3 separate regions of the Homo sapiens genome follow, and all the other regions are linked to region 2. Evidence: fine-mapped expression QTL. A gene starts in region 2. Each other region holds a variant in brackets. All regions are shown on one strand. Distances are between the middles of the regions. Region 1 overlaps CPNE4 (copine 4). Region 2 holds the start of CPNE4 (copine 4). Region 3 holds the start of LOC105374113 (a long non-coding RNA gene).

What was found. PIP is the estimated chance that this variant, and not a neighbour inherited with it, causes the effect.
Region 1: its variant is the best candidate, but not a certain one, in a credible set for the expression of CPNE4 in aorta (GTEx, PIP 0.57).
Region 3: its variant is the best candidate, but not a certain one, in a credible set for the expression of CPNE4 in left ventricle (GTEx, PIP 0.86).

Annotation. Positions count from the first base shown.
Region 1 is chr3:131,961,479-131,965,719 of GRCh38, reverse strand. All of the region lies in intron 1 of CPNE4 (copine 4), which reads left to right. Among named protein-coding and RNA genes, the nearest start is that of MIR5704, 22 kb to the left of the region's middle. The variant C/T (reference allele first, on the strand shown) is at 1,911.
Region 2 is chr3:132,032,654-132,036,894 of GRCh38, reverse strand. CPNE4 (copine 4) reads left to right here and starts at 1,881. Exons shown (of 16, transcript NM_130808.3): 1 at 1,881-2,328. RefSeq lists a silencer at 1,657-1,756 and an enhancer at 2,132-2,301.
Region 3 is chr3:131,802,625-131,806,865 of GRCh38, reverse strand. The region is part of intron 2 of CPNE4 (copine 4); the gene reads left to right. It overlaps LOC105374113 (a long non-coding RNA gene), which reads right to left and starts at 4,056. Exons shown (of 7, transcript XR_007096089.1): 1 at 3,975-4,056; 2 at 3,364-3,469. The variant C/T (reference allele first, on the strand shown) is at 2,253.

The sequences.
Region 1 (4,241 bases), 71 kb after region 2:
TGAATCTGGGTGCCCCTGTATTGGGTGCATATATATTTAGGATAGTTAGCTCTTCTTGTTGCATTGATCCCTTTACCATTATGTAATGCCCTTCTTTGTCTTTTTTGATCTTTGTTGGTTTAAAGTCTGTTTTATCAGAGACTAGCATTGCAAATCCTGATGTTTTTTGTTTTCCATTTGCTTAGTAAATATTCCTCCATCCTTTTATTTTGAGCCTATGTGTGTCTTTGCATGTGAGATGGGTCTCCTGAATACAGCACACCAGTGGGTCTTGATTCTTTATCCAATTTTCCACTCTGTGTCTTTTAATTGGGGCATTTAGCCCATTTACATTTAAGGTTAATATTGTTATGTGTGAATTTGATCTTGTCATCATGATACTAGCTGGTTATTTTGCACATTAGTTGATGCAGTTTCTTCATAGTGTTGTTGGTCTTTATATTTTGGAATGCTTTTGCAGTGGCTGGTACTGTTTTTTCTTTTCCATATTTAGTGCTTCCTTCAGGAGCTCTTGTAAGGCAGGCCTGGTGGTGACAAAATCCTTCAGCATTTCCTTGTCTGTAAAGGATTTTATTTCTCCTTTGTGTATGAAGCTTAGTTTGGCTAGATATGAAATTCTGGGTTGAAAATTCTTTTCTTTAAGAATGTTGAATATTGGCCCCCACTCTCTTCCAGCTTGTAGGGTTTCTGCAGAGAGATCCACTGTTAGTCTGATGGGCTTCCCTTTATAGGTAACCTTACCTTTCTCTCTGGCTGCCCTTAACATTTTTTCCTTCATTTCAACCTTGGAGAATCTGATGATTATGTGCCTTGGGGTTGCTCTTCTCAAGGAGTATCTTAGTGAGGTTCTTTGTATTTCCTGAATTTGAATGTTGGCCTGTCTTGCTAGGTTGGGGATGTTCTCCTAGACAATATCCTGAAGTATATTTTCCGACTTGGTTCCATTCTCCTCATCACTTTCAGATACACCAATCAATTGTAGGTTTGGTTTTTTCACATAGTCCCATATTTCTTGGAGGCTTTTCTTGTTCCTTTTCATTCTTTTTTCCCTAATCTTGTCTTTACCCTTTATGCCATTGAGTTGATCTTCAATCTCTGATATCCTTTCTTCTGCTTGATTGATTCAGCTATTGATGCTCGTGTATGCTTCACAAAGTTCTCATGCTGTGTTTTTCAGCTCCATCAGGTCATTTATGTTCTTCTCTAAACTGGTTATTCTAGTTAGCAGTTCCTGTAACCTTTTATCAAGGTTCTTAGCTTCCTTGGATTGGGTTAGAATATGCTCCTTTAGCTCAGAGGAGTTTGTTATTACCTGCCTTCTGAAGCCTACTTCTGTCAATTTGTCAAACTTATTCTCCATCCAGTTTTGTGCCCTTGCTGGAGAGGAGTTGCGATCATTTGGAGGAGATAAGGCATTCTGGTTTTTGGAATTTTCAGCATTTTTGGACCAGTTTTTCCTCATCTTTGTGGATTTATCTACCTTTGATCTTTGATGCTGATGGCCTTTGGATGGGGTTTTTGAGTGGGTGTCCTTTTTGTTGATGTTGATATTATTGCTTTCTGTTTGTTAGTTTTTCTTCTAACAGGCCCCTCTGCTGCAGGTCTGCTGAAGTTTGCTGGAGGCCCACTCCAGACCCTGTTTGCCTGGGTATCACCAGTGGAGGCTGCAGAGCAGCAAAGATTGCTGCCTGCTCCTTCCCTGGAAGCTTTGTCCTAGAGGGGCACCCACCAGATGCCAGCCAGAGCTCTTCTGTATGAGGTGCCTGTCAACCCCTGCTAGGAGATATCTCCTAGTAAGGAGGCACGGGTGTCAGGGACCCACTTAAGGAGGCAGTCTGTCCCTTAGCAGAGCTTTGCTGTGAGATTCTCTGCTCTCTTCAGAGCCAGCAGGCAGGAATATTTAAGTCTGC[C/T]GTAGTGCCAACAGCTGCTCCTTCCCCCAGCTGCTCTGTCCCAGGGAGATGGGAGTTTTATCTATAAGCCCGTGACTGGAGCTGCTGCCTTTCTTTCAGAGATGCCCTGCCCAGTGAAGAGGAATCTAGAGAGGCAGCCTGGCCACAGCCGCTTCGCTGCCCTGCGGTGAGTTTTGCCGAACTTCCCGGCAGCTTGCTTAACACTGTGAGTGGAAAACCACCTACTCAAGCCTCAGTAATGGTGGATGCCCCTCCCCCTACCAAGCTCAAGCATCCCAGGTCGACTTCAGACTGCTTTGCTGGCAGTGAGAATTTCAAGCCAGTGGTTCTCAGTTTTCTGGGATCTGTGGGACTGGGACCCACTGAGTGAGACCACTTGGCTCCCTGGCTTCAGCTCCCTTTCCAAGGGAGTGAACGGTTCTGTCTCGCTGGGGTTGCAGGTGCCACTGGGGTATGAAAAAAAAAAACTGCAGCTAGCTCAGTGTCTGCCCAAACAGCTGCCTAGTTTTGTGCTTGAAACCCAGGGCCCTGGTGGTGTAGGCAAGTGAGGGAATCCCCTGGTCTGTGGGTTGTAAAAACCATGGGGGAAGCATAGTATCTGGGACAGATAGGACAGTCCCTCATGGCTTCCCTTTGGCTGAGGGAGGGGGGCTCCCCCAGCTCCTTGCACTTCCCGGGTGAGGCAACGCCCTACCCTGCTTCTGCTTGCCCTACATGGGCTGCACCCACTGTCTAACCAGTCCCAATCAGATGAACCGGGTACCTCTGTTGGAAATGCGGATATCACCTGCCTTCTGCATTGGTCTCACTGGGAGCTGCAGACCGGAACTGTTCCTATTTGACCATCTTGCCAGGAGTCCAAAAGCTTTGCCATTACTTTTAATGAGAGAGGATTCTTTTTATATAGCAAATAACAAAATGTTGGAACTTGTTCAGGTATAAATATTTATTATTCTAAGCAGGGTGTAGGGCAATATAGAACAACATTTTTTTTTTGAATCAGGGACTTTTTAAGAATCTGCTGAAAGCCATTTTCTCTCTCAGGAAAACGTATTTACTCACTGGATTTTTTTTTTAACTGTTTCTGGGGTTCCACAGATGCATTTCTCCACTGGAAGTCCATCTATTTGTTTAGGATTTCATGGTTTAGATAAATATTCAATTATAAATGTTTAAGTTCTTATAACAGTACTTGCCACATATTAAGTGCTCAATAAATGTTGTTGAATGAATGGAAAGGGGAGGAAGGAACATTCAAGATATAGTTCTAGTCTTCTCTAATCCTGTAAGGAGTCCAGTCTATGCTCTTTGTGTATGGCTGTGACTCAGAAGGATGGTCTTTGTTTTGTTCTGGAGTGTCTGAGCACATTTTTGTTGTGGTGGTGGTGCATTGCATGTGAACTGGGCCTTGAGAGAAGTTCAAATACTGAGTGAAAATAAAGTAATGGTCTGATTATAACTGTCAGATCGGGTGGTTAGACTGGTTCCTGAAACATAACCAATTCCAAGGCAAAAGAAAAGACATCTCTTCATCTACCCTTGACTTAGCACCTGCTGAATAGTAGGCACTTGTTAGGCATCGAGGAAATAGATATTAGCTGTAATGGAAGCATGGACAACTTGCTATGGGATCATAGAAAAAGGCAGGGCCTCGAGGAGCAAATAGGAGTTTGTCAGGTTAGAAGGGGAGTCTACTCAAAGGGGAACAGCAAAGGTCTGGGCAATTGAATATGCATGGAATTCTGAGCATTTCAAACAATCTAGTACTTTTTTAGGCACTCAAAAATGTTGGCTAGGTGAATGCATGAATGACCATTAAATGAGATGATCTAGATATGGCCAGATGGGATAGAGATAACGTTGAGAAACGTTTGGAAGTAGAATGGGTATGACTTGGTGATATGTATGCAGTAGCAGATCTGGATCTGAGTAGGGAAAAGGGAGAAGGGAGAGAGATAAACAGAAAATTGTTTTTTGATATTTGGTATGTGTGACTCTTGGTGATGTCACCTATGTTGTCTCTACCCTTTCACCTGCTAGTCTGTCTTTAAGGTCATTTTTTGAGGATTGTAATGTGGGACCATGAGCCCCCTTCAATCCTGTATGTTCTATCTTTAGTCCTCTAGGTGTGGATCTTAAGAGTCAGGAATAGACAACAGAGCAGGGATAGGAGAGTACTTTCAGAGAAACAGAACATGCTTGTTTGTAAGGGGGTAATATATTGGATGAATATTTCAGTGGCTGTTTCTTTTCAACCATACATCCTGACTGACCATTCGGGTCACAGAAAATGCTGTATCTTAGCACAGTCACCCTGTGTGTGGCTCAATT
Region 2 (4,241 bases):
GATTGCCTGGAAATAGTACATGCTCAGCACATCTTAATTCCTTTTCTCTCACCTGTAATATAAGAAGTTTATGTTGAATGGTCCCTAAGGTATTTATATTATTTTTAATTTTATAAATGTAGAAGGTGGTAGACACCTTTCTAGGCATTGGGGTTATAATTATGAACAAGACGACAAAACAGACATATCCCTTGCCTTCATAGAAATTAAATTTTAGAGGATACAATTAACATGCAAGGAAATGCACAATGACTTTTCCTTCTTCTTCCTTCATCTTTGCAAGTTCAATCCAATTCAAATTTTGAGTTTATCTCTGAGGCTACCTCTTAACAAAACCTGGAAGTAATGTTTTTGGACTTAACATTTTCATATTTAGTAGTCATACACTGGTTTTGCCTGCTTAGCATCCGTCTCCCCTTTCCTGGTAGGAGGACCCTGAATATCCCTTGGAGAATTGTCCCTGTGTCTCACTCGCAATGTGTGTAGATCAGGTGGGGCTCCATCCTGGCTCCAGGAGTGCTATAGAAGACATCACATGCTCCTAGACATTGTGGAAGTCCTGGCCCATTAGTGTAATTCCATATCCAAAGGTCACAACGATTGACTTATGCATAGCCATGTGACCCAAGTTTTTGCAATCAAAGCAAATCCAAGGATTTCTGTGGTAGTTTCAGTGTACAGAGAAGCTCCCTGAGGTCCTTTCCAGGGTCCATGTTTAGTGTTATCCTATTTCAGAAAGGCTTTAGAGGTGACTGAAAGAAGAAAAATGTTATTTGTGTTCTGTCAGAAGGTTGTCCCTTTGTTTATCAAAGATATTTCTGTCTACTTCTATAGAACAATTAAGAGGGGGTCTTCCTCCTTACCCTATTGGTTCTCCTTTTCTGGACTTTGAAATTGAGAACTTCATGGTTAGTGAAAAGATTTTGGCTAATATCTCCTCCAACCTTCAGGTTGGAGAGGCTTTGTTAGATAGCCCCTTAATAGGGTGAGAAGGAAGACCTTCCATCTCCCCTCCACGTTAGATGTAACACACTCTATACCATCCCAATGTCAGAAAGAGACCGTCATTCACTTTACTTCATTAATTCCAAAGTCCAATTTGTGAGTCTGACAATACCAATGTGCAGAGAGAATTTAGTTGTCTAGTTTGTCTATGGTAGCAGACATAATCAGAAACAATGCCCTGTATTTGAATAAGTTCATTTGTCTGAATTTGAATAAGTTTGAAATAGGAAGGCCATACTTTCTCTCTAAAGTGCTTTAAAACATGTGGAAGTGGTCACCCCTTACATAAGACAGCATATTTATATCTATCTTTAAGCATAAGTACTCCCTAAGTATTTCTTTATCTTATTTGTGAGGTAGATGTATTCAGAAACTCATCATGAGATGAAGAAAATACTCTTTGTCCATTAATTTACTCATGCATTACTTACTAAAAATAATTTCCAGGCTCCTGCCATACGCCAGACAGTTTTGTAGACACGAAGGATCCAGAGATTAGCAACACCTTTACCATTTTTGGTGACAGTTAAGCACCCATCTAAGAAGTTTTCTTTGGTGAGTGCCAAAAAGTGTAACTCCCATTCCCCCCACACCCGCGCCGCGATACGACCGCTCCACCCTAGAGTGGAGATGGAGACCAAGCACTTGGAGATCTAAATCAAGTGTCCCCAGGAGCTCAGTTGAGCGACAAAGCTGAGCAGAAAGCCCAGACTGCGGGCGCGGCAGGACCACGGAGAGCGCCGCCGCCAAGGCCTGGGCGGGGCCTGAGCTCGGGTTCCCGGGGCAATGCTCGTCTCCGTCAGCAACCCCCAGGGGGCGCTCGCGCGGAGGTTTCGGAACCAGTCTCTTGCCGGGTTGCTGGGTGCATGGGATTCGTCAGAAGGTGGAAATCTCTCTGTGAGAAGCTGCCATCTCCCCGCCACCCGCTCGTCCCCTTCTCTTTCTGCCACCCTCCTTTCCTTCCTCCCTCGCTCCACTCCACTCCCTCCCTCTTTTCTCAGTACCCTCCTCTTTACTCTCCGAGTTAACTGAGAGCCGACCTGACATCTCCAACATTTTCACCCTCTTCCCCCACCCCCATCACCGAGAATGGAGTCAGGGTTTCCGGAGAGACCGAACTCTGCTCTCAGCACCTTTCCCAGCCGCTGTTGCTAAACTGACCTCGGAGGACGAGAGGGGAAGGAGGTGCGACGCCCCTTACATCAGTACAAAACTACCACACCAACCACCTCCACTTCAAAGCCGGATTTTGCATCCTGGGGGCGGGACAGACCTCGTCCCGGGCTGAATTCTCTCTCCACTCTTCGAGATTGGCACACCCAGGTAAGTAAATGCCAACTCTTCATTCCTGTGTTCCTGGGGCGCTGTGATTGCAAAGTCTGTTGGAGCTGCTGCGTAGCAAGACCAACTTTTGAGATGCACTGGTTCTCGCTCACCTTTGCACGTTTGTCATTGCTGTTGTTGTTTTAAAAAGCAGCAGCAAGCAACGTCTTTAATCTGAAGGGACTTCCATCCCCTACCTCTCGCCTTCTGACATCCACCCAACTCGCCCAGGTGGGGTGGGGCGAATGGAGTTGGGGAGAAAGACCGCGGAGGGGAGGGGACAGCATGGCACGGGTGAGGGATAGGTCAGGGAAGTCCCGAAGGCGGAAGAAGGGGTACGGTTTTCAAAATCGGGGAAGGGGAGGGGAAGGGAGTTCTGGCTGAAGTTGCAGCTTCCTCTCTGACAGTGAGAAAGCTGTGGGACATTGTAGTCCCTTCCAATGGCTTGACCTGGCTGCGGTTGGATTCAGCCTCTCAACCTCCTCCCCCACACTTCTTACAATGAGGTTCTAATAATATTTTAGTTGCCTCTTCTCAGTGTTAAAAACTAATGAATAGGCTTGCAAGTGCTTTGATTCAACGTAGTCCTTCAGCGCTTCTTCCTCTATGGAATAAAGTAGCCAGAAGGAAAGGGGGACGGGGACAGGGGACGGGACTGGAGGGACCACTGAAACCAAGCCACAGCTGAGTAAGGAGATCACGACCCCGCGTGGTATCACAGACACACGAGAACTGTTAGGGCTGAATCCAATGGAGATAATTAGGAGGTGGTCCACGCCAAGTCAAGCGAGTGCTGATTACCATCCGGTGAGGAGCAGGCTAAACCCTGATGAAAAATGCTCCTCCTTCATCTTGGAGTAGGTGGGCTTTAAGGCCCTATTTCCCATTCTATGTTCCAAATCTGACGGCGCCCCAGGGCGCCTTGGCGGATTGCCTTTCAGCCCCAGAACCTGCTAGGCTCCAGGGAAAGTCACAGGCGGCAGAGATGATCCAAGGGGCGCAAATCTATGAAGGGCTTGATGTGGGTGGTTGGGAAGTGGAGGGGGGAAAGGTGAGCAGAGTGAGGCGGGAGGGGGCTAGGGAAGCGAGAGTGCTCTGGGAAGCTTTGCAAGAGAGACATCTGAGAACCTCTCCCTCTACACACACACACACACACACACAGACACACACACACACTCACACACTCTCACAGGATTTCAGTGACTTGTGGGAAAAGATGCCTCAGCACCTTTACACCCTGTGTTCAAAACTATGCAAAACCAACTCTTCATCCTCTTGCTGCTTTGCCAGGGATTTTAAAAGCACTGTTCTGGTTTTTCTTGGCTCACTTGGTTTTGTTTCCTGAACAGCACTTTTGAGCTGTCCAAGATACTTTAATATGTTATCTTTAAATGAAACTAAATCCTGCTCATTCGCGCGCCCCCGCGCGCACACATACACAGGCGTACACAATTACCTTAACTTCAAATAAAGTGTTCTTTTCTCCATACTCTTCTATTCCCTTAACAATCCCTGTTCTCAAAGGCCTTTGTGTTTTATTTTCTGCTTTATAACAAAACAAAAAAACAAACACCCACCGTCCTATGACACAGGTGTTTTGAATCCATGTCAATTTTTGTAGTTAGTATATGCTGGTTAAACCACATAGCATATCCCCCAAAAAGCCAGAGGCAAGCAAAAACTTAATTTGATGCCCTTCAAGTTTCGGAAGGTCCCATTTCTTTTTATTAACCAAAAGATAAGATGAAGCTCAGCATGGCTATGGCTGTGATTAGATAACTTCTGATATTTTCATTTCCCTTACCGAGCTGCTGCTTCTAGGCTGAACTCATTCACCTGCCCATTTTTAAAGAGAGACTGACAAAGTCACTCTGGCAGGTCAGGACTCAGAGTTAGTCAAAAGTTCTCACATG
Region 3 (4,241 bases), 230 kb after region 2:
ATGGATGTTAGGTTTTTCGAAACAAATCCAGGAAGACTTTTGTGACATTCATTCTTCCTTTCATGCTACCACCTCGTTCTCCAGAGGCAAGGGACATGGAGTGACCACATGTTAGAAACCAGAGCAAGAAAATGAGGGAATAGCTTTGTTGTAGTTTGTGGCTTCTAAAAGTGCCTAAGAGATATTTTTAAATAAAATTTTCACTTTTTCCCTACACTTGTGTCTTAACATCTGCTGACCAAGTTTATTGTGTTTTCTTGCTCCAGGCTGACAACTATAAAAATTGTTCCTATTTCTTTTTTTTTTTTTTTTTTTTGAGACGGAGTCTCACTCTGTCACCCAGGCTGGAGTGCAGTGGCACAATCTCGGCTCACTGCAAGCACCGCCTCCCGGGTTCATGCCATTCTCCTGCCTCAGCCTCCAGAGTAGCTGGGATTACAGGCGCCCGCCACTATGCCCGGCTAATTTTTTGTATTTTTAGTAGAGACAGGGTTTCACCATGTTAGCCAGGATGGTCTCGATCTCCTGACCTCATGATCTACCCGCCTCGGGCTCCCAAAGTGCTGGGATTACAGGCATGAGCCACCGCGCCTGGCCAATATTTTAATTTTATGTTCTAATTAATATTTAAGGCAAAGTTCATATTTTAAATTAAATATCATTTAGTTGTATGAGGAAGGATGGCTTCCAGCCAACAAAAACGTTCTCCTTAACTTCCCAGATACTTTTAGGAAGACTCAGATAAAGTTTCAAGCATCCAGTTATATTTAAGACCTGCCTGAATATGGCTGCACAGTATCTAATATCTAAGTTATTCACTAGCATGGTTCTAGCTGCATGTTAATAAAAGTAAAATGACTGGAATTTCATGATTTCCGATTATTTATATGTACATCTGGAAGATTTTATTTCCCAAAGAAGGCTGCAATAATACATTTTATTCCACATGCTCCTCTTAAAATGTGACCTTTCCACATTCATAGATATGACAGGCAGAGTCTATTTCTCTTTTTCCTGGACTTGGGCATATCTTTGTGACTGCCTCAACCAGTAGGGCACAGTGGAAGTGTCACTATATAACTCGTGAGGCAATGAAAGAGCTGCACCTTCTCCCTAGATCTGTCTTAGAACACTTGCTTTTGGTACCCAGTCACTACCATCTCACACCCAGCTGTGAGGAATCCCAGGTTACATGAAGAAACCATTTTTATAGGTGTTCTGGCTGACAGCCGGCATCACCCAGCAGACATGTGAGGGAGGCAGTCTTCAAGATGACTCCAGTCCCTGTTAATGTCTAGTTGCAACTTCATGAGAGACTCTGAGTGAGAATCATTTAGCTGAGCCTACCCAATACCCAGACTGTATGAGATAATAATAAATGAGGATCGAATTTGTTTAATACCTTTAAATTTGTTGTTTTGTAGACAGGTATAACTAGAACAGCACATTGGACCAAAAACAACCCTGAATTCGAAGTGTCAAAATTGTTGAAATCACTGGCTTGTGGTTTCACTGATACTAAATTTTTCCATCCATCTCTTTATCTTGCCACAAACATGGGAAGCACGAGAGCTCCCTATCTCATACATCTGCAAAATTGTACTTTACACTAGCTATCCAAAATAATGTATCTTTCCAGGGCACCAAGGAGAGCAAGCGATGGCCTTCCCAGGGAAAAACACATCTTTCAGTTTTGCAGCAGGTAGTGTATGATTCATACATGGGCTGATTGGATGGGAATGAGGAGAGAAAAATCACAGAATGGGCAATAAGAATTCTGTTGGTTTGACTCAAGGCAAATGAATCTGGGAGTACTCAGGATAGTGCTCATTTTGGAATTTAGTCTGCTTGTGACTATTTCCCTTAAATAATAAACCATTCAAAACCTAGTGGCTTAAAAACACCATTTCTTTAACTCACTATTATGTGAGTCAGCAATTTATGCTGTGCTTAGTTGGGCAGTTATTCTGGTCTCAGATGGACTTTCTCATGTGTCTGTGCCCAACTGCAGATAAGGCCTCGCTGATGACAAGGGCAAATGGGAAGACTGGGCCACATGTCACTTGTTCTCTATCAGGTTAGCCTGAGCTTAGTCACATGGCAGTGGAATAGTTCCAAGAGAAAGAGCAGAAGCATTTAAGCCTCTTCTGGCCTTGGTTTAGAACAGGCACGCTGCCACTTCTACCACATCCCATTGGCTGAAGCAAGTTACAAGGCCAGCCCAATACAAGGGATGGGGAAATACACGATAC[C/T]TTTTCAGCAGATGAATTGAAAGTCACATTGTAAAGGATGTAGAACACAGGAAAAGGTAAAAGAAAACCATTTTTGTGATCATTTAGCCCTTGTTTTGGTTTATTATTGTGCTAGTCCTACAGATCAGGTTATATAAAGCAGTCTGATATGAAGTAAAAACAGCTGGATTCTAGGCATTTATTCACAAGGCTCGAGTCATACCTCGGGAAGATATAACTAGGTTTGTGAGTAGTTCACATATTCTATAGATATTTATAATTTGTATTTTTTAATACTTGCCAGCTGCTTGACATTAACATTTTCCCTGTAGTGTCCCAATTTCTTGTGTCTGAAATCATACGGGTTCTGCTTATAGCAGACAAACTGAGTTCCACCGAGATATACAGGTTGGTAATGATTAAACCAGTGTGAATGAATAGGGAGGAGAAAAGTTTCAGAACTTCTACCTGATAGTTGAATCAGAGAATCACAAATGTTCAGTGGTAAAAGAGAATTTCAACTAACCCCTTTAACTCTGATGGGATGGATTAATCAATAATGATTTGTGTGTATTAGAGAGGGAGAGAGAGAGACTAATTGACTCTAGATATTTATAGGCACACAAGAGATAAGGTGAGAAAAATAATTAAGATGTATTGATTTATTGTGCTTGTAACTAGACTTTATAAACTCAGATGCTCAGAGATGGAGTCAAACCTTAATAAGAACTTTAATTTCTCATTTAGTAAGAGATTAGTCTTTACGGTTTTCCACTCTTCCTGACCACCATTTTGATCACTGCTTAATGTTCCAGCAATTAGAGGTACGTAATTTACTTAACCATTTCCCCGTTGTTAAATACTAATATTGTCACTAGTTCCTTATGTTTACAAATAGTGCTGCAATAAACATTTCTGAGCACAGCATGTTCTCCTCAGCTTGGGTATGAGCTTCACAAGGGCAGAGAGTTGTCTAAAGTATGGGTTTTCAGTGGCTAGAACAGTGCCTGGCACAAAGTAGGTGCCTAACAACATTTTAAAATATCTTTTGAACAGATAGAGTTGTCCTCATATTTTAAATTCTTTACTCAGGAGAGAGTCCCAGATGTCTATGCCTTCAGAGTATTCTTACCTGAATATCTCATTTGAGGAGAACAAATCACATACACAGTTTGTCTTCAATGTAGAAAAACTTGATAGAGACAGTTAGCAGCAAAACTTCCTTTTGCTTTTGTTCTCTAGAAAGAGATAACAAACTAAATGAGTAGGACTGACTGTATTAGAAAGCTGGACAGAGAAAGGGAAGAGAGTTAGCATTTCCTGTTTTCTGCTATATGCCAGGCACTGTGCTAAATATGATACTGGCAACATCTCATGTCATCCTCACAGATGTGGGTGCAATCATAACCATACTCAAATGAAAATTCATCCCTCTAGGACATTATGTAATTTGTCGAATTCCAAGGTTATCCACCTGGCTAATGGTAGAGCCAGGATTTGAATTCAAACATTTCTGGCTTCAAAGCATTTCTTCTTCGTCTTTTTATTTATTTTTGTAACCTTTCACTACCTCCCTGGAAACTGAATTGGATAGATAACTTAGAAAATCCTCCAACAAACTAACCTTAAAATTTTCTAATTCCAGTCCTGAGTCCATACAGGTTTTCCATCTGAGGCCAGAATGCTAAAACCCAAGGCATTAAAGTGCCAATTTAGGGAAGATTGTCTCTGTGGGTTGCTGACCTGCTCTGCAGTGACTTTCAGCTTTGCTTTATCATGACCTGGTCCCTCTTTGAAGATTGTCAGGAGAAAAGCAGCATCTTTCTCTATGTCCATAAAATATACTGTTTTCAATGATTCAGTTTTGAGCTCTCAGCCACATTAACAGGTTTTCAGGGGGAGATTCCAGGGTTTCCCTCCGTGAACATTTTGTGCTTTGAGGATGATGCTAAGGGTCTCAGCTTAGATGTCTGTATTTTGATGTCATTTACAGCCTTGCTGTGAGAAATT